Linked DNA regions of Homo sapiens: regions 1, 2 and 3 are each linked to region 4. The links come from fine-mapping of genetic effects on gene expression. A gene starts in region 4. Each other region holds a variant in brackets. All regions are shown on one strand. Distances are from middle to middle. Region 1 overlaps C2orf76 (chromosome 2 open reading frame 76). Region 2 overlaps C2orf76 (chromosome 2 open reading frame 76). Region 3 holds the start of LOC105373581 (a long non-coding RNA gene). Region 4 holds the start of STEAP3 (STEAP3 metalloreductase).

Evidence for each region. PIP is the estimated chance that this variant, and not a neighbour inherited with it, causes the effect.
Region 1: its variant is fine-mapped to the expression of STEAP3 in whole blood (TOPMed, PIP 0.95).
Region 2: its variant is fine-mapped to the expression of STEAP3 in whole blood (TOPMed, PIP 0.97).
Region 3: its variant is fine-mapped to the expression of STEAP3 in whole blood (TOPMed, PIP above 0.99).

What each region holds. Positions count from the first base shown.
Region 1 is chr2:119,296,527-119,304,510 of GRCh38, forward strand. C2orf76 (chromosome 2 open reading frame 76) reads right to left here. Exons shown (of 6, transcript NM_001322331.2): 6 at 5,699-6,022. The coding sequence ends at 5,946. Among named protein-coding and RNA genes, the nearest start is that of STEAP3-AS1, 51 kb to the left of the region's middle. The variant G/A (reference allele first, on the strand shown) is at 4,300.
Region 2 is chr2:119,316,766-119,324,749 of GRCh38, forward strand. It overlaps C2orf76 (chromosome 2 open reading frame 76), which reads right to left. Exons shown (of 6, transcript NM_001322331.2): 3 at 4,389-4,439; 4 at 701-738. Among named protein-coding and RNA genes, the nearest start is that of C2orf76, 46 kb to the right of the region's middle. The variant C/A (reference allele first, on the strand shown) is at 4,580.
Region 3 is chr2:119,264,514-119,271,699 of GRCh38, forward strand. It overlaps STEAP3 (STEAP3 metalloreductase), which reads left to right. Exons shown (of 6, transcript NM_182915.3): 6 at 1-1,139. LOC105373581 (a long non-coding RNA gene) reads right to left here and starts at 6,493. Exons shown (of 2, transcript XR_001739666.3): 1 at 6,161-6,493; 2 at 1,112-4,991. RefSeq lists a silencer at 811-910. The variant A/G (reference allele first, on the strand shown) is at 2,776.
Region 4 is chr2:119,220,391-119,228,374 of GRCh38, forward strand. STEAP3 (STEAP3 metalloreductase) reads left to right here and starts at 3,444. Exons shown (of 6, transcript NM_182915.3): 1 at 3,444-3,498. RefSeq lists silencers at 3,187-3,966, 4,027-4,096.

The DNA of each region.
Region 1 (7,984 bases), 76 kb after region 4:
ATGCATTAGCAGAAATGGGGAAGCCCCTGCTCTTCCCCCTTGTCCCCAGCAATCAGCAGAAGGTTTCCAAAGGGGCTCAGGCCAGGCCAGTTCTCTGGGTGTCCAAATAGGCAGGAACTTCACCATCTCTCCTGCCTGTGTCTGGGGCAGGCAGAAAAAGAAGGAAAAGAAAACCCGTTTGCTACGGCAAAGAAGTTCCTCAAAGTCACATGAAACCTGGCCCAACTCGTGGGACCAGGGCCCAAGTGTTCCTTTGGCAAAGGCAAGTTCTCTTCAAAGGAGAATAGAAAAATGCCTGTAAAGGGGCGCCAACAATGCAGATGGGGAACTGTCTCTTGGCTGTGGTTGACCACCTTTCTACCATGTTTCTCCTAGTGCCCAACTCCCTTTGTTTTCAAAGAGTGGCAGAAAGTAGGATTTGAAGCCAGAAGAGACCTGCTCTTTGACTTATCAGATCTTAGGCCTTGGACAAGTGGCTTAATCTCTGAGGGTGAGGGTTCCTTGCTCCAAAATGAAGTTGCTGCTGCTGCACTCACTCTCACAATAAGTACCCGAAGACATGTAATAAGTGCTCACTTCCTGCTAGGCTCTGTCCGTAAGTGCCTTGTAGGCAATGTCCCACTTGATCACAAAACTCTGCAAAGTGGCCCTTATTATCTCCTCCATCTCACAGATGGGGAAACCAGGACTCCTCAGAGCTCTAGCACAGTCTACTGTGTGGATTAAATGAGATAATATAAAATACATACAGTGTCTGACACACAATGGTGATTTTTTAAAAAATGAGACTTCTCAACCATCTTTAAGAGAGTGATCATGCTTTGAAATGCATAACATGACAATGCTTTAAAATGCATACCTATATGTTTAAATAACATATGTGCAAAAAAAGAAAAAAAGGTCTGAAAGTATGCTCACCAAGCTATGCAAAGGAGTGACCTTGCAAGAAGAGGATTTTTACTTTTTTTTAATCTTCAGAATTTTGTTGTTGTTGTTTTGAGACAAGGTCTGGCTCTATAGCCCAGGCTGGAGTGCAGTGGTGTGATCTCAGCTCACTGTAACCTCTGCCTCCCAGGTTCAAGCCATCCTCCCTCCTCAGCCTCCTCAGTAGCTGGGGCTACAGGCATGCACTACCATGCCCAGCTAATTTTTGTAGAGATGTGGTTTCACCATGTTGCCCAGGCTGGACTCAAACTCGTGAGCTCAAATGATCACTGGCCTCGGCCTCCCAAAGTGCTGGGATTACAGGTGTGAGCCACCATGCCTGGACCAGAATTGGTTGTTTTAACAAGCAAATGTGACTTAAAACACATGAAAAAGCTCAGAAACTCTAAAAAATAGACATAGAAAAAATAACCTAGATGGAAATATGTCAAAATGTTCATGGCAATTGCCTGATGGATTTTTTCTGCTTCTTTTGATTTCTATACATGTTTTGGTTTTGTTTTTACTAATTCATTTTTTATGAGACAGGGTCTCACTATGTTGCCCAGGCTGGTGTCAAACTCCTAGGCTCAAGCAATCCGCCCCCCTCAGCCTCCTGAGTAGCTGAAACTATAGGCATGCATCACCACACCTGGCTTGCTTTTAGTCATTCTTAACACAAATACATTCTCCTTATGAAATTATGGCATACGCCTTTTGTGTTTTCAGAAGGCCTTCTCTACCCCAAGGTCACAAATATAATCCATTTTTTCTTCTAATAAACTCATCATCTTGTTTTTCATGTTTAGTTATTTAACCCATCTGAAATTTTAGTGAATGGTATGAAGTAGGACCCTTAACTGTTTTTTTTAAATACTTGGCCATGTGCTAAATAATCTTCCTTTTCCTCATAATTACAAATACTACCTTTATTAGCTATTGTTTCCATGTAAATTTTATTAGTTTCCATATTCTATTCCATTGATCATTTTATCTAGTTCTGTATCATTACCAACTTGTTTTGATCACTGAATCTATTTTGACATCTAGTAGGCAACCACCCTTTCTTCTAGCCTACGTTTTGTTTTTCCAAATTGATCTTGGCTATTCTTGCATATTCTTCTTCCAAATGAATTTAAAAATCAATTTGTCAAGTTCCATGATAAATCCTTTGGGATTTTGATTGAGACTGCATTTATTTATGGATTAGGTAGGTATCTTCCATCTATAAACATGTAATCTATCTCTATTCAGGTCTTTTATACTCATCTAATAACACTATTTTATAGCTTTTGTGAACAATACATTTTAGGTTCAGCACTCAAGTCTCTTAGTTCAAAAAAAACTTAATCTTCTTGCAATCATATTGTCTACAAATGAATGTTTTGCCTACTCCTTTCCAATATCTGAGAATCTTACTATTTTTCCTACTGGCTACAATAAGACTTGCAGAAACATACTGAATAGTACTGGCAATAGTGTTCATTCTTGTCTAATTCATATTTTTTGTGCTGGAGTGCAGTGGTGCAATCACAGCTCACTGCAGCCTTGACCTCCTGGACCCAAGGGATCCTCCCACCTCCGCCTCCCAAGTAACTGGAACTACAGGGGCAAATTACCACACCCAGCTAATTTTTTTTTTTTTCTTGTAGAGACGGGGTTTCATCCTGTTGCCCAGGCTGGTCTCGAACTCCTGAGCTCAAGCAATCTTCCCGCCTCAGCCTCCCAAAGGGCTGAGATTACAGGCCTAAGCCAATGCACCCAGCCGCAGCCTCTTATTCATATCTAATAGATTTGCTGAAACACTTCTCCATTAAGTAGGTTTTCTATGAGCAAACTTCATCAAGTTAAGGGTATTTCTTTCCCTTGCTAATTTTTATATATGCATGAGCAAGAATATCATCAAATGCCTTTTGGCATCTATTGAGATAAACATAATATTTTTTCTCCTATATAGATTTTGAAAAGTATATTGAGAGATTTTCTAATTTTGAATCAATCTTCCATTCCTGGTAAAAGTCCTTTTTAGTCACAATACATTTTTATTTATTGTAAACACAACAGAAATGTCTTTTCTCATAGCTGTGGAGGCTACAAGTCTGAAATCCAGGTGTCAGCAGGGCTCTGCTCCCTCTGCAGGCTCTAGGGAACAATCCTTCTTTGCCTCTTCTAGTTTCTGGTGGTTGCTGTTGATACATTTATTTTTGATTTTTTTTCTGTATTTATAAGTGAAAATACTCTATATGTACCTTTTATAAGAAAAATACATACCAAAAAAGGTACTATACATACATATTTTTGCATTATCTACTTAAAAATGCACAGGTAAAGATATGCTTAATTTTATATTTTAAAAAAGCCTGGTATGCAAATTGAATGCGTGCAAAGCAAACAAATGGAATATGTTTTAACCTCTACTTATTGAGTTCCCTATTTGGATTACTGCTGCCATCATTAATCCAGCCACTCAACTCCAGCAAGAATCACTGAAGTCTCCATTCCTTCCTCCCCACACTATCCCCGTCCAGGCATTCACCAGGTCCCAAACATTCTAAGGTCATTCTACCTCAGGTCTCCACTGGGAGGCTGCAGGATGGAATGGGGGAAGTCAGGATTTTAAGACAGATTTGGTTCCAATCCCATTGCACATGACTGCATTCTCTTGAGCAAATAACTTTACCTCTCTGGGCCCCAATTTCTTCATCTATAAATATACATGCTACCATTGAAGAACTGTGGTAAAAGTCAAATGAGATAACATATGTAAATTAACTACCACACCATATTTGCCACGGAACGCACGATCACATGGTAACACCAAGAACCTCCCCAATCCTCCTCTTCCCCTCGGCCCCTGCCCTAGGCCAGGCCTTCCAAACTTCACCTGCTCAATGATGTCTTCTAGTCTTTCTGCCACCTGGACATTGCTGACAAAGCTCACTTTCTAAAATATAAATGGAATCAAATACCTGTTTAAATCATGCTACTGGCTCCCATCTACCTACTAGATACCGTTCTAACTCCTTAGCATGACTTGTAAGGCCTACCTCAACCTACCTTTCTGGCCTTATCTTCCTCTACTCTGTTCCATGTACTTTACACTCCTGTATAGATGCTCCTCAACTTACAATGGGGTTAGTCCCAATAAACTCATTGTTGGTTGAAAATATTATCTAAGTGAAAAATGCATTTAATACACCTAACCTATCAAACATTGCATTAGCTTAATCTACCTTACATATGCTCAGAACATTTACATTAGCCTAGAGTTGGGCAAAATCATCTACCACAAAGCTGATTTTATTGTAAAGTATTAAATATTTCATGTAATTTATTGAATACTGCACTGAAAGTGGAAAACATAATGGCTGTATG[G/A]GTACTCAGTGTTTCTACTGAATGCCTACTGCTTTCATACCACTATAAGGTCGAAACATCATTAAGTTGCACCATCTATAAAAGTCAGGGACACTAAAATTTGCGCTTTCTCCTGAAACCTCAAGCTCTTTCACAGTCCTTTGCCTTTGTGTATGCTATTCCCTCTTCCAGAAAGCCTTTCCCTTCTTTTCTTCTAAGCAAAAATTCCCATTCAATCTTCTAAGACACAGCTCAACTGGTACTTCTTAAAAACACACACACACACACACACACACACACAACTAATTTCTGTCAACAATGCTCTGATGGCAGCTTTTTCTGCTATTCTTAAAATCATTTGCTTGTACTATGTCTTTCTCCATTCACTGAGGCAAAAACTGGGTCTTATTTTCCTCTTTATTAACTCCCCCAAAACTACATCATCTGTGTATTCAACACTTTGCTCCTGAATGAAACAATGAATAAAATAAGTAGAATTTATCTTAAAGAAGACCCTATTAACTTTTTCAACAAAGCAAGGCATCTTCTAATCATGTTAATCAGAGTTTCAAAGTTGATTTGTTAAGAAATCATAGGTTTTCTTAAGTTAGACGTGACCATAATGAAACCAATTTGCCCTCCTGGCAACTCTGAGGACTCAAGGAGCAATGGCAGAGCCGGCTAAGCCCTCCGGCACTCAGGGAGCAATGGCAGAGCTGGCTAAGCTCTCCGGCACTCAGGGAGCAATGGCAGAGCTGGCTAAGCTCTCCAGGACTCAGGGAGCAATGGCAGAGCTAGCTAAGCTCTCCAGGAGTTCTGATTAAATGCAGCCTGACTGAAAGGCCTCTGAAATAAGGACTCCACAGGTGCTGGCGGTCAGCCATAATCAGGAACCACAAGTATTATATTATTTAGAAGGAATGTATCTTCCAGGACATAGACTTGTTCTCAATGAACAATTTTCTTCCAGAAGTGCAAGCATCCTGCCGCTTCCTCTCTCCAAATAAATGAGTTTGATTCTATGATAGTTTCTTCCTGAAGATGGAAAACACAGCTCAAGAAAGAAAAGAAAAAAAAAAATCAGCAACATTATTTGTATAGGCTGCAATACTTTAAAAAAAAAAAAAAAGTAACCTTCCTACATCATAAAACCTCCCTAAAATATACACAATTCAATTGCACATATGGTGGTATGTATCACACACCCTGAACTAAAAGGTAGCCATGAAGGTCAAGAAACTCAGAATTTCTGGTAGCCACAGACAGAAACAGTTGCTCTAATTAGAAACTACAGAAAAAATATACAATAAACAGTATGATCTTAGTCTTAGAATCTTTTTAAGGAGCTCTACATGCAAGTCACAAAAATAATTCCTAATTTTAGAAAACAAATTATAATTTAAGAATCAATATTCCACAATAATTTTTAATAACAATTTATTTCCCTTTAAAAAGATCAAATGTTTTTCTCATAATATATTATTTTACAACAACAAAGAAAAAGAAAGAGAGAAGGAAAGACCTGAAGAGAAAGAAATAACCAGATTTTAGCTCAAAGAGTATAGCCTGGGATTAATTTTTTAAGATTTGTTTGTCAATTTCAAAAATTCAGCAGTGGAATAAAGAGCTTAATACAGGTATGCAAAAAGGAAGCCCTCGAGATGTTTTCACCAGGATGAAATGGGATTAGCTTTGTAGTTCTTATAATCTTCTTCACAGAAGAATGCAATTTCAGTTTCACTGGCTGAAAAAAAACAGAAAATGGAAAAAAAGATTTTAATGTAAATCTAAATTTTAAACAAGTATGGAAATCCATATGACTTTGATTCGGTATTTCAGAATAGCTTCAGATGCCCAAAGTGAAAAAGATGAGTTATTTGTTGGGTCGCACAATGCATTTTACCAAATCAACAAGAAGTTTCAGGTGAAGTTTTAAGAATCAAAACCTCAAATGATTTAAAAGTAAAAAAGAACAAAAAATAAAAAACCAAAAATTAAAATCAAGAGTTAATACAAGAATCTGGTTTTCAGGAAATCATAAAATTGCTCATTTACAGTCTTTTTTACAGTGCTAGGAAATAAAAAACCTTGATTTTTTTCTCAAATATGCTACTCAGGTACTGAAGGAAGGGGAGGGAAAACTCTTTTCCCCCCCTGAAATTAGCCTGTAGGTATAATAATTTAATACTTAGAGGATCAGTAGAATATTTTACAGATCACTTTACATTCTCCCTCATGACCCATCAAAATATGTGTCTGAAGAAGTTAATTTTTTGCCCTGCTTATGATTAATTCATGCGGCTTCAACAATATGCAAAGTGAAAGACACAAATTGGCTTCTACCTCAATACCTTCAAATACCTCTAATTATTCACAAGGGAGATGGCACAGCTAAAGGACCCATGAAGGTTCAGAGCAGTCACAATTCTTTCAACCTAGCAGGTCAAGGACTGCGTCTTCTATAACAATAAGTCAGCAACATTATTAATTCAGGCTAGAGACAAATCTGATGGAAAGCCTTCCAGTTATTAAACATGCAATTCTTTAAGGTGTTGTGCCAACAAGTTCCACATTCATTTTTCAAATTAAACCAGAAGTTAATACAGTCTGCTTGGCTTTTACAGAAAGAGCAAAAGGGCCTTCAGAATCTCCACAAGAAAACAGACAAGATTATTCGTAATGCATACTGAGCACTCAATTAACATACTCTCTAAAAACAGACAAGTAAAACTCTCCAAGTCAAATAAATAGCATAATAAGAAAGGGTGCCAAGGATTACCACTCGTCTCTTAGTTTACAACTCTCATCTCATCATTAGACTTTATCACAAAATAATGAAATTAATGAGATTAGCATGCCATTTCATTAAAAATGTTTTTGCTGTTTTCAAGAATATCCAATTTAATGTTTGTTAATCATAAGCTACCCATGCTCATTACAGAAAATAAACAAGTGTCAAAAGAAGAAAATAAAGCCACCCATAGTCACAGATCCTCATTCCAGTCCTCTACTATATCTTCAAGATTAAATTTAATCTGAGTAGATGAAAATCAGACTGCAACCTCGCATGACAAGGAGCCTGTGGGGGATACAGCACAGAGAAACTGGAGATCAATAAGGAGGAGCTGTAAAAAGATGCACCCTGTGCAAACAGTAAGTTAAGGTACAGTTAAATTTTACAAGAAAGTGGCATCTAAAAGAATGGGTAAAAGACTCCTCCACACTTGGAATCAGTGGGAAAAAGAAAATCAAGAAAGAGAGCTTCAAAAACTTCAATATTCAAAGATATTTGGAAATCTATCCCTTATAGAAAAAGCTCCTGGGGTTTCCTTTTTTGAAGCAAAGCATGCCCAGAGGTAGATGTATATAATTTGCAAGTGATTCTAATCAACCTTCTAATGAAGAATGAGCAAAAGACACCCTGTTCTTAATAATCACAGAGCAAGGTTTTATCTGTGATGTGCTATTTACATACAGAACTTTACACAGTGCTTTGCCCACACAGCACTTCGCTCAGTCCACGCTAACTGTAATTACAATTTTCACTTACTGCAGTTGACATTTATCTGAACCCCTTTTGAGAAACTAATATGTTGTGTGGCTCTTCAGCAATAGTAGGTTCAGAGAAGCTGCTGGAAAGCAAGGAGTTCTGTTTTGACACATAGGTTCTTTTGGATCCAGTTAACTGAAACATCAATCCATTATT
Region 2 (7,984 bases), 96 kb after region 4:
GGAAGATTACTGCTTTAATGAGGACTCTATGGAAGGCCAGAGATTAAAGAAAAAAAGATCACTCTGCTCTGTCTGTATGATAAACAAATCTTTGACTGTGGCTTCATAAAAACGTTACTCTAAAAAAGTAAAAAAACAGAAATATAAACACACAACAAACCCATAAATAAACAGCTCTCTTTGGGAAAGGTAAGACAACTTCAGGATTGCAGGCCATGGCCTTGGTGGAGCTAAAAGGTGTGTTCCCAGAGCCACAGTTCTGTGCCTTCTCTTATACACAGCAAGAATCAAATTAGAACAAGTGAATTATTTGTGTCTGCATCTGGCCCTTTTGTTCTGGTACAGAATTAAGAAAATCAAAGACACTGGATTGCCAGATAATAAGCAGTTTCTTTTATCTGTAAATTGAATTTACTTTTCCAAGTTTTATGCTTATTTTATGTTAAATATGTGCTTGATAAACAAAATATGGTATACTTTTTTTAATTAACACTTTTTTAAAAAGGACCTACTACTAACAGGGAAATAGCTTATTTTTCTTCAATGAAAAAGCTAAGGCAGTAAAAAGGGTACCTACAAAATAAAAAGCGCTATTATAATGGGAAATATTTTAGATGTACATGTATTCATTCACTTATTCACAAATTCAACCAACATTGATTACTTGCTATGTGCCAGATACTGTACCTGTGGAACATACCTTTGATTTATGTGCTTGATGAATAATCTTTAGTGCATCTGAAAGAAAAAAGCAAGTTATCTTTTTACACAGTTTATTCTAAACTTCTTTTCAAATTATTAAAATGGGTGGAGGGTGGCTACGAAATTGAGAAATGTAAGTCCTTGTTTTATAACCAGACTCATTTAGAAATATACTATACAGCAAAAGAAAAATTACTTCTGTAGATCATTAAAACTGAAGTAAAAGATCTTTATCTTTTAAAGCCTTGGTCTTTGACACACAGCAGTGTGTGTGTCAGAACTTTTTGTCAACTCAGCACATTTTTTCTTAGAATGGAAGACAAGCAAATCAGATTACTGTACCTTGTTTTTTTGGAGTCAATACAGAACAGGATTAGCAAATAATGTAAAAAAAAAAGTCTTAAAATAGACATTAGCAAATGCAGTTCAAAAAAATCTATTCAGATGAGATATAATGACAAGAGAGCAAATGATGATACAGGTGTTGCCACTCTCAGTATTCAAACACTGTATCTAGGACCACCGGGAATCTGAGCAAGGCTGCTAATGCCCCAGGAATATCACTATCTGTCTCTTGGTTTGCAAATACTGCACAGGCTCACACCATTTCATCTGCTCTATTCAAACCCAACTTCACTCCTTAATTTGTTTATCTTGAAGTCAGGCTACACTGTGCACTTCCAGTAAGTAATTTCTCCACACTTGGGTAAAATTCGAACTCAGCAACAATCAGCCCTTAATTACATAATCTACACAGCCATTCAACAGGTTGAAATTCAGAAAGTTTCCGATTCTTCACTCGTTTTTATTTAAACATTTAATGAATGCATTATGATTACAGTGTATTATTGAATAAACTCCCAAACTTAAACTAAAACTCATTCCTATCAATCACGTTGTAACAAGGAATTCCAACAGTGACAGGAAATGAAAGGATCTATTTTTAAAACAGACCTTATTTAACTATGTTCTCATAATACACAATAAGGTGGCTATCTAGATAAGAACTAGCACTCTGAATTTGCCCATTATTTTAAATAGTCAACTTTCAGTTATCTATTGCAATTTTTTTTTTTTTTTGAGACGGAGTCTTGCTCTGTCGCCTTGGCTGCAGTACAGCAGCATGATCTCAGCTCACTACAAGCTCCACCTCCCAAGTTCAAGCAATTCGCCTGCCTCAGCCTCCCGAGCAGCTGGGATTACAGGCTCCCACCACCACACCTAGCTAATTTTTGCATTTTTAGTAAAGACAGGGTTTCACCATGTTGGCTAGGTCTCGAACTCCTGACCTCAGGTGATCTGCCCTCCTCAGCTTCCAAAGTGCTGGGATTACAGGCATGATCCACTGCATCTGGCCTTGTAATTTTTTATACAAGGTCAACATAATCCTCAGTAACTCTGTATTCCTAAGAAATAAAAATAAATCTAACCTAAGTAAAATATGCATATTAGGGATGTAAATAAACCATAATTGCTAAAAATAAGCTTAAAATGTGTGTAAGAAAATAAACAAAGTTGACTTTCAGCTTATCTAGTATTCCAAATTACCTATCATGTCCTTTTTCTTACTATAGATATGTTTATTATTTGAGACAAGTGAGAGAAGCCAATAGTATTTTTAAAATAACAGGAGCTCAAAGTCTGTTGCAATCAACCTGCAAAACTATAGTCTGACCTTACTAAATATTAATCCTGTTCTATATATTTTGCTAATGAGCCTTTAAACTAGAAATCCTGCTGCTCTAATAGGTTTGGCAAACACACAATTAAACGGCTACATATTTTAGCAGAAAAAGAAATGTTTTGAAGAGAAGTTTTTGCCAGATTTTTCTCTCCAACAGAAAGGGGTGTGACCTGAGGAGTGGGTAAGAAAGGAGAAATGACAAACCAGCAGAGAGATGTATTACTGTCCCTTTCTGTGTTGAATAAGCTGCTTCCCTTGTTCTTGCTTCTTTCAAATAATCCTCATAATTATCACAAACAATACCTGTGGGCATTGTTTTCTTAATACAAATTCCTTGAGGAAAGCAACCTCATAAAAATATCATCTTGTATTTGTGGAGCATCACACACAGCTTTATGAAACAGAGAGGGATGAGCAGCCCACACTGTACAACAACTACATTCTTGTGTGCCCTCATGGGTCATGTCTAGGCGATAGGGATTTAAGATAAGTAGCATGCGTGGTAAATCAATAATAGATGTGGATGCCAATTAAATGGGAGGAGGGCTCTGAGATATCTCAGGCTCTTGGTGGCAGAGAGAATCAGCCCTTTGCCAAAGGGTAGGGAGACAGTGACTGGCAAAACTGAAATCTGACTCCACACTCTTTCCACTCCCGAATACCTAACAAAGTGCCCTGTCCCGCAGACCGTGAGGTGGCAGTCCCGGATGACAATGACAGGTGAAAATAACACTGCAGCCTTTCTTGTTCAACAGAAAGCAGAAGATTGTTAAACAGCCAAGTTCAGACAAAGCCACTTGAAGTCTATCAAAACTCGAGTGGTTCTATAATTTCTTCACAAATAAATGTATTCATTTTTTCTGCCAATTCATCTGAATAGTATAGAAATACTAGGGCAGAAGGAAGTTAATAAGATAGAATAGTCTAAAAGGTACATTATCTACCACAATAATGCTTAGCAACTTGGATATTCTAACGCTTTCATTATCTAAAATTTCTTTCAAAAGAACTTACATGGAACACAGCTTTGCACATAGACATATAGATACACACATACACACACACCATGAAAAAAGGAAACCATATGTAACTATTCTAATTTAAAATGGCATCTGTAAGTTGATTCAAGTTTAAGGCTATATTTCAAGACATTATACTTTGAAAGCCTTGAAAGCCACAATTGAGAAGTTTCATATTTACCTTAATCATCCTTTTTATTCCTTTATCTTATTCAATATTGAGTATGTAAATTCTTTAAGCCCAATAAATCAAAGTACTTTCCACTCAGTGCCTTCAACTTCTGCTTCACTACCCCTTATAACCTCACAATTAGTTTCTGGATATTAAAATGCATACACACGGCGAAGATTGTGATTTCAAAGGATTTTAGGTCATAAGTTGTTCTATCAAATGAGAACAGAATGAAAAGCCACTCCAAAAAAAAATCTAAGGTAATAAAAAATTTATACTTTAAAATGTCTGCACCAATTAAGAGAAATATTTATTAGGTGCATCATACCTTTCAAATGAAGTCTCAAATTCAAAGTTTGGTGAGTGTCACTCTGCTGAAGGTTAATAACTGTGCCATCTTTATAACAAATAATGAATGACAACATCTAGCTTCTTACCTTATTACTCCATTTTTAAATCATCAATTGTAACACATAAAACTACTATATAACATGCTCAAATTATTGGCATTTAAAATGTTAAATCCCTTCTTTTAATTCTTAGTCTTCAATCATTTTTCCTTTTCTAATTACCTGGCAGAGAAACTCGTTTTAAACACAGTTTTGGCAAACATGCTACTCTTTGCAAATACGCCACTTCCTTACTATTACAATTCATTTCAGCAATATACTAGCATTCCTGTATTTCTAAATAAACTTCCAAATTGGTTTTTATTTACAGATAGTCATTTTTGAAAACAAAATTTAAGTTTGTAACAAACTAATGCAAAATTGTATTTATATATATTTTAAAAGAATAAAAAAATGGTTACCATATTTATAATTTCTGAATGGTGGTGGCAGGTTGGTCCTTAAAGGGATATCTACAAGAGAAAGATTATTTTTTTACACAATAAGCAAATAGACACTCATAGAATATGCACAGTCTTTTGGTTCTATTCTTTTCTATCTACAGACTAAGTTACCTTGAAAAACCTGACAGAACACAGAATAAATACATCAC[C/A]GAAATCCAAGGGCCATCTATATTAGTCCATTCTCATACCACTATAAAGAAATACCCAAGACTAGGTAATCTATTAAAAAAAATGTTTAATGGACTGGGGAGGCCTCACAATCATGGCAGGTGAAAGAGGAGCAAAGGCACATCTAACATGGCGCCAGGCAAGAGGGTCTGTGCATGGGAACTGCCCTTTATAAAACCATCAGATCTCACGACACTTATTCACTACCGTAAGAACAGCATGGGAAAAACCCACCCCCATGATTCAATTCTCTCCCACCAGGTCCCTCCCCTGACAGGTGGGGATTATGGGAGCTACAATGCAAGATGAGATTTGGGTAGGGATACGGCCAAAGCATATCACCATCTAAAATATTAGAGCTATTGACAAGATGTTGAGTTGTTACTATCTGAACTAAGACTTCAGTAACACTATTAAAAGAATGTTTAATTTCATTAGACAACAGTATCTATGTATAGTTAAAATATATACTAATACACTTGTGTGAGACATATATATATATATATAGCTGATGTTTGTTTAGCATATGAATCTGAGAGCCCCTTATGGGTCTTTGGCCATTAGTGGAAACCAATGATCTAGAACAATCTTATTACTCCACCAAAATTCATATAACCAACAAAATAACTCCTCTAACTCCTCAAAGACAACAAAACACAGTAAATATTCTTTTAAAAACATATTCCAAATGCCAGTACTAATTTTAATTAATATCTGCTGGTACAACACCTAACAGAGAAATGTGTGTATATATGTGTATATATATATATATCTCAAAATTACATATGCACATACTCCTTGACCTAGCCATTCCACTTCAGAATCAATGAGTGAATGAACGAATTTATTGATTAACTGATTGACACAGGGTCTCATTTTGCTGCCCAGACTGGAGTGTAGTGGAACAAACATGGCTCACTGCAGCCTCGACCTCCCAGACTCAAGTGATCCCCCTGCATCAACCCCCCAAGTAGCTGGGATTACAGGTGCATGCCACCGCACCCAGCAATTTTTTGTATTTTTTTGTGGAGATGGGGTTTTGTCATGTTGCCCAGGCTGGTCTCAAACTCCTGAACTTAAGCAATCTGCCCACCTTGGCCTCCCAAAGTGCTGGGATTACAGGCATGAGCTACTATGCCCAGCCGGAAATTTATTATCATAGAACTATACTACACACGAGTGTGTGTAAAATGACATTCATAGAAGGGTATTAACTGCAGCATTGCTCACAGCAGCAAATGTTAGGAAAAGTCCAAATGTCCTTCAATTAGGTACTCGTTAAGTAAATCATAATATGCCCAAACAATGAAAAATACTTTTCAACTGTTAAAAGAAAAAGAAGGAAGCTCTCTACTAACATGATAAGATCTTCAAGTTACATCAAGGCTAAAGAGATATGAGAGAACATTATTTTTAGGAAGCTACCTTTTGAGTAAAAAGGGGGTAAAATGAGAATTTATGGTGGGATTTGCTTGTACTTGCTGAGTGGGGGGTGGGGAGGGCAGGGGGGTGCTGCACTGGTCAGACAGAGACCAGAAGGGTAAAGGAGACTTTTCACTATATTCCTTTCCACATTTTGATCTTAAAACCACATGAATGTGTTACCTACTAAAGAAAAGTAAAACAAACAAAAAATATCCACGTATCTAAATTAGGAAATGTGAAGGTTTTTGAGACAGGGTCTTGCTCTGTTGCCCAGGCTAGAGTGCAGGGATGTGATTATACTCACAGTAGCCTTGACCTCCTGGGCCCAAGCGATCCTCCCACCTCAGCCTCCCAAGTAGCTGGGACTACAGGCGCTCAGCACCATGCCCATAGTCCCGGCATTTTTTTTTTTTTTAATAGACAGGTTTCACTAGGTTGCCCAGGCTGATCTAAAATTCCTGGGCTCAAGCAATCCTCTCACCTCGCCCCGAAAGTGCTGGGATTACAGGCATGAGCCACTACACCTGGTCAGGAAATGTGGGTTTTTTTAAAATGCTTTTTCAAGATCAAATACGTATCAAATTAAAATATAATTGATTAATTTATGTTACAAGCATTTAAAGCACCTACTACCAGGTATTCCAGGAACAGAGTAAAAGAGGAGCTGCCCACTCATGACAGCGTGTGCTCCAGTGGTGAATGCTGTAACAAAAGTACGTTTCCAGCCAGTGCTATGGTCCTAGGAGTGTGGTCCTCACCCCGGCTGCACGTCAGGATCACCCAGCCTGGCACGAGTGGATCTGACTCACGGTAGGCTGGTCCCAGGCAGAGATATTTAAACACAAAACAAAACAAAACAAAACAAAAAAAACCCTGAGATGATTCGTACTCAAATTCACCCAGAGGCCAGACAGGTGACAACAGGTAAGTGAAGCAGGTCAAACAAGGAGGGGCAGTGAGATCTGAGAGCATGCGCCCATCAAAGGGGGCTCTGCCAGTCAGTGCTGACTGATCACAGTGCTGTAGGAACATGAGCCTGGAGTGGCCACACCTAAAGATTTAAATGGCAATGCTACAAGTCTAGGGTTTTAGGTGAAATTTCTTGACTTTTAAAACACTATAGGCCAAAAGAAACCTCTCTGGAGGCAGGATTTGCCTGCCAGATACCAATTTGAAACCTCTGGCTTAGGCTTACCAGAGCATATGTACTTCATTTTATTCTTCTTGTGTCTCCATTATTTGTGAATTATGGGCCAAAGCAGTATTCATTCAACATCAGAAAGGAGAATTAATTCCATTTAATGTATTGACATTTATATTTCCTGAATTAGACAATGAAACTCCCTGAAGAAAGCCGTGAGGTGAAGAACAGATGGCCCCATGAAGCTATTATCATTTAGAGATGTCTACGACTGAAGAAATCAAATCAGTCTTATGTTCAATCCAGACTTCTGAGAGAAGAGACAACGACCAGGACACAGCGAGCACCTATTCTCTTCCTGCCTTTACATCTTAACTGAAGTGCCATCTCCTCTGACAACCCTTCTAAAGCGGGGGTCTTCTCTGATATTGTTTCCTTCATAACAGGTTTTACAATTATAGTTTTGTCTTTTAACTTATTTTTGTCACTATTTCCTATGAATTTATAAATTCCTCGGGATGAAAACGTGGGCTGTCCTCTCAAAACCTAGGACCATGTCCGGCCCATAACAAATTATCACAAACTGCTTCCATGAGGGCAGGGACCACAGCCTGTTTTCTTCATTGTGTTGTCAGAACCTAAAATAGTGCCTGGTACACAGCATGTGCTCAAAATATTCATGAAAGAATACATATAATTTAATGCCTACAGTTGCCAGTGGAGAACACTGAGGTCTCAAGAAGTGCCTGGTCAGCCCAAGGTGTCAAGAGCTGGGACCAGAACCCTGCCCTCTCGACTCCCCTCCTGCAGCACTGAGAAG
Region 3 (7,186 bases), 44 kb after region 4:
AGGGAAGAGCACCGCCGGGGCCACAGGACGTCTGTCCTCCAGTCACAGGCCATCCTTGCTGCTCCCTACTGACTCTAGCTTACTTCCCCTGTGAAGAAACAGGTGTTCTCGGCTGAGCCCCCAACCCTCTGCAGAACCAGGTTGATCTGCCACAGAAAAAGCATCTTTGAAGACAAAGAGGGTGAGGTCTTCATGAGTCTCCTGGGCCCAAAGCCATCTTCTGATGGAAGGAAGAGAGTAGGGCCAGTGAAGGCTGCCCAGAGAGAATGTCACAGATGAGGCTGCCCCTGCCCCCCCCCCGCCAGGGAGGTTTCATGAGCTCATGTCTATGCAGCACATAAGGGTTCTTCAGTGAAAAGCAGGAGAAGAGCCCACTGCAAGGATAGCTCATTAGGCACATGACCGATGCAGGGAAGGCCATGCCGGGGAAGCTCTTCCTGCAGGTATTTTCCATCTGCTGTGCCAAGGCTGAGCGGCAGAAACTTGTCTCATAAATTGGCACTGATGGAGCATCAGCTGTGGCCCACAGAGAGCCTTGCTGAGAAGGGGGCAGGTAAAGCAGAGATTTTAGCATTGCCTTGGCATAACAAGGGCCCATCGATTCCCTACTAATGAGAGGCAGGGAGAGCATGGGCAATGGAGACCCACCAATGATCCCCAACCCCGGTGGGTACTGGCTGCCTGCCCTGGGCCAGGGAATGGCTCCTTATACCAAAGATGCTGGCACATAGCAGAACCCAGTGCACGTCCTCCCCTTCCCACCCACCTCTGGCTGAAGGTGCTCAAGAGGGAAGCAATTATAAGGTGGGTGGCAGGAGGGAACAGGTGCCACCTGCTGGACAATCACACGAAAGGCAGGCGGGCTGTGTACTGGGCCCTGACTGTGCGTCCACTGCTGTCTTCCCTACCTCACCAGGCTACTGGCAGCAGCATCCCGAGAGCACATCATCTCCACAGCCTGGTAAATTCCATGTGCCTCTGGGTACAAAAGTGCCTCAACGACATGCTCTGGAAATCCCAAATGCCACAGTCTGAGGTTGATATCTAAAATCTATGCCTTCAAAAGAGTCTCTGTTTTTTTTTTTTAACCTGGTAGACAGTATAAAAGCAGTGCAAATAAACACCTAACCTTCTGCAAACTTCAGGCTTTTATTTCTGCCATGTAGATCACGTATCCATTCGTCCACTGACTCGAGAAGCCTTCAGCTTGGAGCCTGCTCTCAGGCAGGCAGTGTGCAAGGACTTGGGACTGCCAAGGTGAACACAGTGATCTGTGCTAGAGCTGGCCAATGAGGAAGGGCAGATGTGCAGACCTAAGGGACTAAGGGACATGCCAGGGAGGAAATGGGCAAGATCCAGGTGACAGAGTGTCGGGTGGGGGTGTGGGGATGTGAAAAGGTGGCTTCCTGGAGTGGTCTGAAGGCTGAGGCCTCGGTGCAGGTAAAAGCAGCAGAGCTTCTTGAATTATAATGTGCCTGGGAGTCACCTAGGAATGTGGTTCGAATGCGGGTTCTGATTTGTGGTCTGGGGTGAGGCATGAGACTGTGCATTTCTAATAAGCTCCTGGGTGACCTGTATGGTGATGATCCTCGGACACTCCGAGCGACAAGAGCTTAGATGGCATTCTTTGCCTCTGCTGTGCTTAGTCTATGGCACACTAATCTGTACACACACATCTCTGTCCCCTCAATCCTCCCCATGAGCCTGCATTCCCCTGGCAGCCCTGGCAAGGTACACGTCTGTACAATGCTATCTATGACCCCCGTGTTCTCTTAAAGGCAGAGGGAGAAACACTCCATCTTGGAGCCACAGCCTTGCACTTTGTGCTTCACGAGGGCTGCGGCACATTGGCCCTGGGTCCATCAGGAAAACAAAAGGAGCTCTCTTCAGAGACCACCCAACTACCATGCAGCCGAGCCTTCCTGCTGAAGCAACCAGACTGCCTTATGGTACAGGGCAAGGGGGCAAGAAACCCAGTGCAGAAAGTGGTCTAGTGGCTAAAAACCATTTCTTGGGAACAATAACCAAAATACAGCCCTGCCATTTTGAGTTCATTATAAGGATTTTCCAAAGAAAGAACCATGGCCAGTAAATACATTCATGACAAACAATTTTCAAGGTGAAAAGCATCTTGTCCTTGGAGGTTTACTTTTCTCCTCTGTGTCCTCCCATGCATAAAGCTGAGAGAGTTAACTTTACAAAGAAGTAATCAAATAGATGAAAAATACCCCCTACCAAGGTAGCCCATGTAAGAACTAAGGAACCACCAAAATCACGCATATCAGTTCAGGAGAGAAAGTTATCATTTAGCTGTTTGACACGTTGAATCTTTTCCAAAAGCAATGAAGCTAGCTCTTGGAGTGCAGAAGCTCTCTTGTGCTGGGCCACTTCCCTGGTCTCAACCAAGAGAGAGTTGGCTCCACTAAAGCAGAAATTCTCAGTCCCATCCACAATCACTGACTTCTTCTAACAAGTCTTCTGAAAATCTCTTTACTAATTTCTGAAATGAAATTCAGAAATAATATAACCTACCTATGCATATAATTTTTAAAATCAGTGTAAGGTCTAAATTGAAACATAAAGTAGAAATAATTTACACTAATACATATATAACATTAATAATGAATAATTATTATATTAATAGCCTTACAATAAATAAATTGGTTTTTAAATACAGTATATTCAACTAAACATTGTTGGCTCATTTGTAGCTGACATTTTAAGATAAAAGTGCGTGTGTGTGTGTGTGTGTGTGTGTGTGTGTGTACTGTGTCC[A/G]CTGTGAGTGTTTGAAATTGTGTTGAATGCTATGAAGAAATCACATAGGGTGAAGACCAATAAATGTCAACTAGATTTGGAAACATGGAAACCTAATGGTGAGAATTTCAGTAGGATGTTGAGGGTAAAATCCAGATTGAGTATGAATAAGAAGGAAATGGAGACAGTAATACTGGACAACTCTTCTGAGATTTGGCTGTAAAGCAAGGGAAAGAGAAAGGATGGGTAATGGGAGGGGTATGTGGGGGTTGAAGGAGGGCTGGTTATTTTTTTCCATGGTTCTGACCTAAACATGTTTTAAATGCTTCTGGGGAATAAACAAGGTGAAAAGGAATGATGGAAGATGAGAGAGAGAATGATAGAGAATCACAAAGTCCTGGAGGACATGGGAAGAGATGGAGTGCAGAGTACAGGTGGCTTTAGAGGAGGAGATTGTCCTTTACAACTAGGAGAGAAGGGGAAAAGAAGTGGCTGAGTATTGAGGGGAGGGGCTAGTTGTGATGACACAGCATGTGACAGTTCCCTTCTGATGTTGTCTGTTCTTTTTAAAAAAACAGTCAATCCCTTCTGCTGAGAACAGGGGAGGAGGAAGGTTTGGCTCTGAGGGCTGAAGAGGGACAAAATGGCTGAAAATAATTGTTGGAGAAAATGTAAAGGGAGCAGACCAGAAAAACTGATAGGGTTTAAAAAACAAAAACAAAATTTGATTATAACCATTTTTTATCCAGAGTGAAATATACCAAATTGTGTTTCCTGGGAAGTGTGCAAAGTAGATTTTTGTTTAGTTAAATTCCATTTTCCCTCACCAGTTTCTTTAATAATTCTAGGTAGTTTGTCTTAGTTCAGTGTCATCTCTAATAGTCACTCAGAAATGCCTTGGCTTCATTTTTGTTTTCTCTATTCAGAAATGAACAGTCACAAATGGAACTTTGATGCACTAGGCAACCAAAAACTTCCATTGCCAATCCTCCCATAAAGTGAATAATCAACACTCTTGCTTATTGAGGGTTGATTGCATTTATTGGACCAGAAACCTAACTTATATCTATAATTCTCATATATGAAGAGTCTATTCTTAAAAATCTAATTTTAGCCAACATTTAAAACTTCTGCAACTAAAGAATTCATGTGGGCTTTTAACTTCCTGAAGGGTCTTCCTGCTTAAAACACAATTAGTTCCTAAACAAAAGACATACTTTTTAAGGCAATACTGAATTTGCAGGAAGTAAGGGAAATCATCAGGACAGAAAATAAATGGGAACACACACAAAAATCAAAAACAAACAAACAAAAAAAAGCTCTCCTTGGCTCCTGGCAGAAGCAAATGCAAGTCCTTTCTGAAGAAAAGCAACCTCAGTTCAGATCAACCAAATAAGAAGCTTAATATTTACAATTAATAAACCATAGGTGAGACTCAGTAGAAACAAAACCTGAAGGACTTCGAAGAACAGAATCGTCAAACATACGATAATGATATATTAAGTATCTAAAGAATTAAAAAATAGAGTTGCAAAAAATAAATAAGCAATAATATACTATAAAGGCACAGGCATGATGAAAAATGGAATTTTCAGAAATAAAAAATTGTCAGAAACAAACTTAATTTGGTGAGTTTAACAGCAGATTGGAGAAAATCGTGAATTTTAAAAGCTAAAAAAATTACCCAGAATGCAAAAGAGAGACAAATGGATAGAAAATATAAAAAAGTCATTAACAGAGATAAAGGTTAAAATGAACAACTATAACATACAAATAGCTGGAGTTCCAAAAGGAAAGAATGGTGAAGAGGCAAATTTTAAAGAGATAAAGACCAAGAATTTTCTAAAACTAGTGAATTACTGGTATCCAAAAATGCTGAAAGTGCAATGTATACCATCAGGCAGGAAAGCAAATTTAAAAGTAAAGCTACAGTTAGCCACACTAAGCAGCTCTTAAAAGCAGTCGAGAAAAATTATAAATGACCTACAATTGTGGAATTACAACAGACTTCTTAACAATATCAATGGAGATTAGAAAATAGTAGTCTAATATCTTAAAAGTTCAGGGGGAAGTGATTGCCAACTTAGAATTTTAAATCAAGCAAAACTGACTTTCAAGATTGAGTGCAAAATAAGAATGTTTCAGATTACAGAAATTGAGAGCTTACCAACAGTTCTTTTCTGAAGAACTTCTAAAAATATACTTCAGATAGAAAGAAAATGATCCCAGAGGGGAATCTGAAAACAAGAAGAAACAGTGAGTGAATAAGTGGTGACCCTCAAGGTAAATCTAAGCAAACCTTTTCTCTATAGAAGAAGAATATCTATGTAAGTGTTTTTTTTTAAAGGACATACTAGGCTGGGCACGGTGGCTCACGCCTGTAATCCCAACACTTTGGGAGGCCAAGACAGGTGGGTCACCTGAGGTCGGGAGTTGGAGACCAGCCTGACCAGCATGGAGAAACCCCACCTCTACTAAAAATACAAAATTAGCTGGGCGTGGTGGCACATGCCTATAATCCCAGCTACTCAAGAGGCTGAGGCAGGAGAATTGCTTCAACCTGGGAGGCGGAGGTTGTGGTGAGCCGAGATAGTGCCATTGCACTTTGGCCTGGGAAACAAGAGTGAAACTCCATCTCAAAAAAAAAAAAAAGACATACTAACTGGCTAAAAACAATGATATGTAAATAAGGGATTGAGTTAAAATGTTCTGAGGCTCATATTTGTTTAGAGGTTGGGGTTGGGAAAGTTATGGGCTAATTTAGATCTTGTTAAGTACATCTAGAAAAATGTCAAGGGTAACCATAAAAAGCTAAAAGTATAATGCCAAAATCCTTAGGAAGGGAAAAAAATTTTAATTGGATTTTTGAAAAACAAGAAACAAGAAAAATAGCATAGGTAAAGCAAGACACAGAAAACAAAAAGTAGGTATTAGAAAAAATCCACATATATTCATAATTGTGAAACAGAATACCATGCACTGGTATCAATCCTTATGAGGGGCACACCATATGTTGGATACCAGGAGAGGACTCTAAACACTTTGCCAATTTTTGTAAAGATTCCTGTATCTGGTGGATGCCCAGGTCTGGCAGGAGTCTTTACACAAACACAGCTTCTAAAGGTTTTGCACAAACCCAGCTGCCGGAGTCTGAGTCTGGTATGACAAAACACCTGCACAAGTCAGGCAAAGCCGACTTATTACTCACAGATATGTAGCAAAGATAGAAGCATAGAATCCGTGGGGAGCTGGTCCCCCAGAACTCAAGCAAGCTGCCCAGGGCAGACGGAATCCCATCTGCATATGCCCAACTTCACACTACAGCTGAGGGACCCTGAAAGCAGTCCACTCTGGATTTTATACCCTACAGGTACTTAAATCACTGAGCTTAAGCATTGCAGAGCACCTTGTTCTGAGAGGAACAAAGACAAAGCCCAGGCTGTTCTAGATGGTTCTTCCTTATCCCAGGATGTTACATTCTCAGTACATTCTGCCCAAGAATTGTAAGAAGGAGCAGGGAGAGCTGAATCAGCCAAGGTCATTCAAGGACTTGTCCTCCTGCAATAATCACAATAAATACAAATGGATTAAACACTTCAGTTGAAAGATAGAGATGGTCAGATTGGATTTTAGTTATATTTATAAGTGGCATACCTAAAGACTCAAGGTAAAGACATGGAAAAAAGTAAGTTAGGCAAAATCAAACTAAATTAACATTGGAGTGGCTAGATTATTATCATATAAAGCATATTTTATGAGAAAAGACATTATTAGGAATACAGAGAATTACTACATAATAATAAAATAAAGATTTAAATATTTTAGAATAATGTGCTTTTAATAATATAGCCTCAAAATATGTAAAGCAAAAAAAAAAAAAGAAAGAAATGTGAACAAATCCCTCATTATACTAAGAGATTATAACAAACAGACAATTATATGCATGTGTGCACATGTATGTGTGTATAACAACACAAGTTGGATATAATACGAAATAGAAAAATTATATTTTTCTCAAGAAAACAAATTGAAAACATATTATACCATAAAGCAAATTTCAATAAATTTCAAATAATAAGTATCGGCATTCTCTCAAGTGAGTGCAAGAAAGTTAGAAATCAAGAACAAAATGCTATATATATGTGTGTATATATATGTATACATACATATCATATATATGTATACATACATATATATGTATGTATGTATACATATATGTGTACACACACATATATATCATATATATATATTTATATTTTAGAGACAGGGTCTCACTTTGTCACCAGGCTGGAGTACAGTGACACAACGATCACAGCTCATTGCAGCCTCAAACTCCTGGGCTTAAGCAATCCTCCTGCCTCAGCCTCCTGAGTAGTTGGGACTACAGGCACACACCAGTGTGCTCAGCTAATTTTTAATACTTATTTTTTAG
Region 4 (7,984 bases):
CTCAGTGCCCTCTCCCACTACCTGCCCTGCCTCAGCTCTGACTGCTGCTGATGTGCCTCCACCCATCAGGTCATTGTGATGGCAAAGACAATGCCTCCATTTGCCCTGAATGCAGCCTTACATAGGAAAGAGCTTCCTGTGCTCCAGAACTTGGAGGAGTCCTGCAGCACCTGGTCTAGTGGGGAGAGCATCAGTGGGGAGCGGCACCTTTCCTGCAGCCACGGCCCACTGGGCAGGACCAGATCCAAGTGGCCTGGCTTCTGGCTAGGGTGTCAGAGTACATTGGGGCATACAGCTTCCCGTGGCCATCTCGTTTTCATGGAGGATTTATTTTGTGAAGTGGACCTGCTCTGTCCCATCCTATAAATGCTGGATTAATCCAAGAAGCTGAGGGTGAGCAACATCCCTCTCCTTCCTGATCAAATAAGAAATAAATCTAGATTTTCTCCTGGATGCTATTCTCTTCTTAGCCAAACAGCTAACCTTGTCTTCAAGGAAAAAGGGCAATCCCAGGGGCTCTGTAAATTGAATATTCAGCAACTCCAGGGGCAGACATCCCTAAGTGCATAAGTGGAGCACCCCTCTGAATCAGCATCACACCAGCTGGGGGCATAAAAAGGAGAGCAGAGTAGGCAGGAGCTGTGGGGACATTTCTGAGATGCTAAAAGAGGCAAGGAAGTGTGAGGACGGGTGTGCATTCATGCAACAGGTATTTACTGAGCACCTACTATGAGCCAGGCAGTGCTCTATCCATTAGAGATACGGAATTGAATAAAACATAAAAATCCCTGCCCAGGAGGAGCTCACATTTCTATGGGAGAAGACAGTTACTGAAAAACAGTCCAAAAAACTCTATTTTATAGTGTGTTCAGAGGTAATACAGGCTATGGGGAAAAAAAGAAAGCAAGCAGGTACATGGATGAGGAATGGGGGCGATCAGCGTGGGCCTCACAGAAATGATGACCTTTCAGCCAAGACTTGGAGGAGGTAGGGAGGGTACCTGGGGATGCCTAGGGTCCAGGCAAGGGGAACGGCAGGGGTCAGGATCCTGTCAGATTCATCTGAGGTGGGACTGAATGTGAGCAGAGAGAGGGAGACAGAGGATGAGGGCAGAGAGAAGGCCAATCACACTGGGCCACGGCTATTGCAAGGACTTTACTTTTGCTGGGGGAGGGGGTAGAGTTTTGAGCAGAGGAGAAATGCGATCTGGCAAACATCTTGCAAGGATGGCTCTGACTGTTCTATCCTTGGCAGAGGACACCAGAGTCTGGCCCATAGAAGGTGCTCAACAAAGCTCAGCACATTGCACTCCTCCCTGGAGTAGGAAAGGGCTCGTCTGCTTTGGGAAATTTGGCTCTCAAGCTTCTGGAAACACCTGACCCCATGCCAGGTGAGACAAGCTCACACTCAAGGCCCCCTTAGTCCAACGGTCAGTGGACAGAACAAGCACCAAAGGTCAACGGCGTGGGCGGTGGCCTCTCTGCCAAAGTGTGTGGGCCCAAGTAGGGTATTCACCTCCCTCCCTGTCTGTGAGAAATTTCAGACCCCTCTACTTTTTCCAGCAGGAGTTCATGTTCCTTTTAAGATAATCCTCTATAGACCTCTGGCAGCCCAGCCTTCAAAATGTCTCCCCCTGTCTCTCTTACTCATGGAGAGCCCCGCTTCCCCGCCTCAAAAAAAAGTCTTCCTCTCTCTTACTCATGCATGGAGAGCCCCACAAAAAGACACTGGTTCCCAGGGATTCTTCCAAAGATGCTGGAAGACCTCTCAGTGTTTGCATTTCCCAAGCTCGGTTTCCTTGTGCTGTCCTTGGGCATTAAAGGAAGGCTATTCAGCCATCCCCATCAGCAGGAGCAGGCATCAAAAGAACAGCTACTGCAGGGGGAGCATATTAGGGGCACCAGAGGGGGCTAGGAACTGGGTCTTGTCTTCTCAAAGTTTACAACCCACTGCAGGGGCCACTCACCAGCCCTGGCACCCTAAGGGCAGGAACCTCCATTGGGCACGTGTGTCTCCAGCACTGGGAGCACTGTCTGGCACCTGGGGCACTGTGAGTGTTGAATGGATAAAGGACCTGTAAGAATTGCCATAAGAGGTGTTGCCCTGGGGCAAGGTGGGACAGGAAAGTTCTTGCAAGAGAAGAGAGGCTCTGGCCTTGGGCCCTGGCTGAGCAGAGAGCTGGGAGGTGGGTATTCGGGTAGGAGGAAAGCTGTGGAGGGGGAAAGCAAACTGCCTGCGGGGGTGGGGGGGTTCTCGGCGGGAGTTGGGGGTGGAGGGAAAGGCGCTTTACAGCAGCACTCCCTCCACAGGGAGACCAGAGCTCTGCCTCTTCCTCCCCACCGTGCCCTTTGGGGTCCAGTTGTGGGGCCTTCCTTGAGGCCCAGCTCCTGCCTCTGGCCTCCGGAGGCTTATCTCCCCAACAGAGGCTGGCTCCCCAGAAAACAGGATTCTTAGACTTCCTAAAAATAACCTGAAGCTCCTTATCAGAGGCTAATAGTGTATGTCTCCCAGGAATACTCTAGAAAGAGTACCAGGGGTCAGGAACCCCCACTCAGCCTCCACGAATCTGAGCGGAAAAGCCCGGGTCTCCTCACCTGTAAAGAAAATAACTGCAGCCGGCAAATGTGACCACAGGTGAGAAGGGGCTTCGGACCAGGGCGCACACCTCTAGAGAGGTGCCCACAGACAGCCTCCCCTTACTTACGCCCTGCTTCGCTGCAGTGCTGTGAAGCCATCGGCATTGGAAGTGCGGAGGGCAGCGGGCAGTGCCCCAGGGGGAAGGGGGGACGGGTAGGGTTTCAGAGCCCAGAAGGCCTAGACAGGGAGGCAGCTCCGGGAGAAAGGTACCCGCCATCCCACCGGTCTTGGAACCTGAGGACTGCTGGGAAGGGTCAAAAGTCTGCCCTAAGGGTGGACAAGGGACAGAGATTGGGGGGGGACCACAAAGGCCTGGGCGCAACCTTGTTGAGAGGGAAGGGATCCGGACCCAATCTGGAGCCCTGGTCTCTTCCCACCTGCAACCGTGGCTGCCACTTGGCCTCGGTTATAAAATGGACAAGGATTCGAGGTGCTCCTCAGGTTAAGAGAGGGGGGCCTAGAGGTCACCCTGGCCTCGGTGCCCTCCGTGGCCGGGTTAAGAGGAGGTCCCGGAGTTCTGCTCACTTCAGCCGTGTGCCGGGCACTGCAAATCAGGAAGTGTTGGCGCCGGCTGGCGACCTCCCGCCTGGGGCCAGGGGAGGAGGGTGGTTGGACGCTGCCACCGCTGCCGGGGCTGTGCAGGGCTGGGCGGGGAGCGAGGACCCGGCGGCTCCTGATTGCGGCCCCGGGGGAGGTGGCCGAGCCGGATAAGCTGCGGCGGGCTGGAGGGCGGCCACCTCCCCTGCAGGTCCGGCCCTCCCGGGCGGGTGGGGCGCGGGGGAGGAGGAGCCTCGGGCCGAGCCACCGCCTTCGCCGCGGACCTTCAGCTGCCGCGGTCGCTCCGAGCGGCGGGCCGCAGAGGTGAGTGTACCCTCCCCCGGTCTCCGCGGGGCTGCGTGCTGCGCCCGGTCCCCGAGACGCCCGCCCGGTTGCACCCTGCGCCGTCGCTGCGCGGACCTCGGGTGCCGCCACACGTCTGGAGGCGACTTCTGTCCCCTGGGACCGAGCCACGTGCGCCCGGCGGCAGAGAAACCGGGTTCCGGGGCCCCCACCCCGTGTGCCTTCCTTCCCTAGGCGTGGAAGCCGCTTGCGCCGCGCAGGTTAGGCAGGGCCGGCGGCGACAGTGGCGGGGAGCAGGCTCCGGAGCCCCGGGTGCAGATGTGGGCGCCCCTCCGGATGACCCCGGCTGAGTCCACAGGTCCCGTGTGCCCCACGGCTGGGGCTCTGGCCAGCGGTCCCAAAGGAGGGCTGGTAGCTGTGGGCGGGGATCTTCCAGGCTCTTCCTCGCCAGACCTCCCAGTCCCTTCGCAGCCGAACAGGGCAGGGACAGGGGCAGGTGCAGGGGCTGGGCAGGGGCGCCCGACCTTGGTCCCCAGGAGGAGGCTGGCCTCACCAGTGCCCGCCTCTGCCCGCGGAGCCCTTGCCTGGCAAAGTTCCCCCTCCTGCCCGGCAAAGCTCCCCCTCCTGCCCACTTCCCCGAAATTTGGGGACAGGCTGCCCGGAGAGGTGTGGTTGGAACTTTGGTCACTCTGGGTAAATGAAGGGGAGGGTGTGCCCAGATAATATGCGGTTTGGGGACCAGAAAGCCGGATCCGTGGGGAGAAGCAGGAAGGTCCCGCTGGAGCCCTGGCAGAGGGCACAGAGAGGCCTCCCAAATATCCAGGGCCACCTCAGAGATGGGCTCCAGAAGTGGGGATTCTGGAAATGCCCCCAGGGAGGTATTTCTGTCCATCAGAGTGCAGCCATAATATAATTAACAGCAGATATTCCCATTTATGTGTGCCAGGCATCTTGCTAAGGGCTTTGAGCACAATATCCCAGTTAATCCTCACAACAGGAAGGCACCATTATCTCTTGTTAAAAATGGGGAAACAGCCTCAGAGAGTCCACGTATTTTGCAAGGATACACAGCTAGGAAGTTGCAGAAGTAGAATTTGAACCCAGAGTTATCTGACTTGGAGCCCAGAGGAACCTACCACTGGGGCGAAACAGGCTGTGTCCTCACGGGGATTCTGGCAGCCCCAAGAATACAGTGCTGAGAGCCAGAAGGTCCACAAAACCAAAGGGTCTCACCTGGGTGTGTCCTCTCAGTCACCTGCAAGGCTTGTTAAAAATATAGATCCCCAAGTCCCATCCGAAGCTGACTGAATCAGCTAGGGGCACCTGGAGGACCCAGACTATGTCTTACTCATCTCTGTCCCTGGTGGCCTGCAGAGGGGCTGGCAAGGAGCAGGTGCTTAGTGAATGTCTAATGGGTAAGTGGGCGGGGTGGGGTAGATGGTGTCACTAGTGTCCTGAAGGGGGCTTAAATGGAGCAGGTGGCCTCAGCCAGGCAATCCGGCAGCAGGTATGGAAGTGACACAGTCTAATGCTGGCCTCAGAGCCAGCAGGGAGCTCAGGCTGGGCCACTTGTCCACCTGGGGGTTGAACAGCCTGCCCCAGGTTTGCTGAGGTCCCCAGGACCAGGCCAGGTCAAGCTGGGATCACACATGTTCCCTCTCCAGCCTAGAGATGTCAAACAGGTAGATTCCTCTCCCATTCATATCTCCTATCCTTGGCCCACAGCCCTTCCCTTCTTGGACTTATCAGAGACCAAGGTGCTGGGCAGGGCTTCAGGTGGTTAAAAAGTGAAAGTTCTTGAGTGAAGTCCAAAGGCGCACACCTGAGAGCTGAGTGGGCAAAAGGTCGCTGGCTGAGTGCTGGGGATAGTCTGGCTTTGGAGTCAGATGGACGAGTCCAAATCTCAGCTCCTTACCCCGTAACATGAAGCCCTCAGCTCTCTGAACCTCTGTTTATTTGCAAAACCTTGCCAAGGGCTTCAAACAGGATATCCTCATAAAACAAGTATGCCTATTTGGGGGACTAAGTGTGTGAAGTGCTGAGTTTTAGGAGTGCAGTAAATATCGGATCCCTCCTTCTTCACCTCAGGTTTGCGAGTTAACCAGTGAGGGGCCTTCCAGGCCTAGTGCTCTTGTAGACCGAACCACTAGCTTTCCTAGAGAAGGCAACTGAGGCCTAGAGAGTGGCCTCCAGGTTCCGTGCTCTGTGGCAGAGCTGGCCTTGGCTCCAAGTCCCAGGGTTCCCAGCTCAGTCTCAGCTGATGCCTCCCAGCCTGGCGGTCTACGCTGCCTGCTACATTCCCTGTCCAGCTACAAATGAACAACTGAGAGGGCTGGGGTGAGATTCAGGCAGGCTGGGGCAAGGGAAGGAAGCAGGTCATTTGGGGAGTCGGGCTCTCTGGTCTTCCAGCTGAGGCTGGATCCACTCTTTCCTGTCCACCCACGGTGCGTAGTGGCCAGGTCTTCCTGAGCTGAGCAGGTTGAGCACTATGAAACTGCTTTCTAGCATCTAGACCAGGGAGTTGCCTCTTGATTTAAAATGAGGATGTTTACCAGTTTAAGTAGTTATTAAAACCTAAGGCCAAGTTGGTGCCTTTCCTCCCTCTAGGAGTTGGAAGGGTGTGTGCTTTTTTCTGCTCCTACCCCACCCCTGCCAAACCATCCCAATTTGAGAGGCTGTGGAGATTACAGAACTTGGAGAGGAGAGGGGCAGGGATCGGGGTTGGAGACTAGATGGTTTTCAAACATTGGGCTACAGAAGTCCCTCTTCCTCCCATCTGTCTCCTGCAGCTGGGTCCACCCACCTGTCCAACACAGCCTCCCACAGGTCCCGGGCCTCTTTGTGCTCCAACCGTCACATCCTTGGCATGCCACACACCCTCACCATCCTGCCTGAAATGCCAGTCCTCATCACTGACATTCAGCCTCCCATGTGCCAGCATCCGGGCCAAACACTTTATCTACAGGAGCTCATTTGTACCTGGAGACTCTTAGGAGGTCGATAATGTTATTCTCCCAACCATGTGACTTTCCAACTCCATATGGACCCCAACCTCTTTTTTTCCACCCCTAACCTGAGACTCCTAGCCACTAACTAACTGCCACATTCTCCTGTCCAAATTCTGCCTCATCGGTTATTCATTCAACAAACACTTACCGAGCACTAACTTTGAGCCAGGCACTCTAAGACCAGCTGAGTCCCACTTCTGGCAGGATGAGTGTTGTTGTCATCAACCACCCCACAAACACCCGTGCCCTCTGCGTACTTGCGAATCTGAGTGAGGAGACACGGTGGCAGTAAGGCTCAGGACCTATAGCTCATGTGAGTGAGCAAGGATGCAAAACCAAAGACACCCGCTCCCCTCACCCACTGAGCTGGAGGGATCAACCACTGTGCCTGCCATCAGGGCTGATGGGCGACTGCTTGTGGATCACAAACTCTTGCGTTGTCACTTCAACCCAGGGGCAGAGTGTGTTCCTCTTCAGGTGTGGCCTGGTCTCGTGAGCCCTGCACTGAATGGGCCAGGCGTTCATTGCTTCAGCACCGTAAGAACACTGTCACCGGAGAATTGTTCGATACTCAACTCTTCCCAGTCAGTCTGTCTTCTGCATGCCCACAGTTACCGGGCAGCGTGGGCAACAAGTGAGCACTGATTGTTCCGCAATCAGGCTGTGACTTACTCCATCTCTGCCTTCTGCTTAATGAGAGCCAGGTGGGAGTTCAGCAAAGATCACATGTTTAAGCCTTGTTATTAAACACGTTAAAAAAATACTGCCCCAAGATTATAAAGCCGACTTCGGTACATATAAAGAGATTTGGGGTCGGTGAATGGGCCCACTAAGCTTTATTTTGTGGTGTCAGCTGTCTTGGTTCATGTGTAGACAGCAGGGCTCCCAAAGCCAGCATGCTGGGGTCTGTGAGGGAACAAGCTTCCCATTTCTTGTATTTATTTATTTATTTATTTATTTATTTATTTTTTGGAGACAGAATCTCGCTCTGTCACCTAGGTTGGAGTGCAGTGGTGCCATCTTGGCTCACTGCAACCTCTGCCTCCCGATTTCAAGCAATTCTCCTGCTTCAGCCTCCTGAGCAGCTGGGATTACAGGTGTGCTCCACCACACCCAGCTAATTTTTGTATTATTAGTAGAGATGGGGTTTTGCCATGTTGGCCAGGCTGGTTTTGAACTCCTGACCTCAGGTGATCCACCTGCCTCGGCCTCCCAAAGTGCTGGGATTACAGGTGTGAGTCACCACAGCCGGCTGCTTCCCATTTCTATAAGCATCCGACTGGTGGGGTGGCCAGTAGGCTGTGGGGAGTGGTGCGTGATTTTCCTGGTGGGCTTGAGAGAGTAACAGTATACCCCCAGTCAGGGCAAGTGTCTCTCTGAAGGTGAACTCTGGGTGCACAGCTAGAGGATACAGTGGCTGTGAGCTGGGCCCTCCAGGTGAGGTCTGGCCTGCCCATTGCCACAGTGGGCTTGCTGGCATCCAGGGGGGCTTTCTGGGT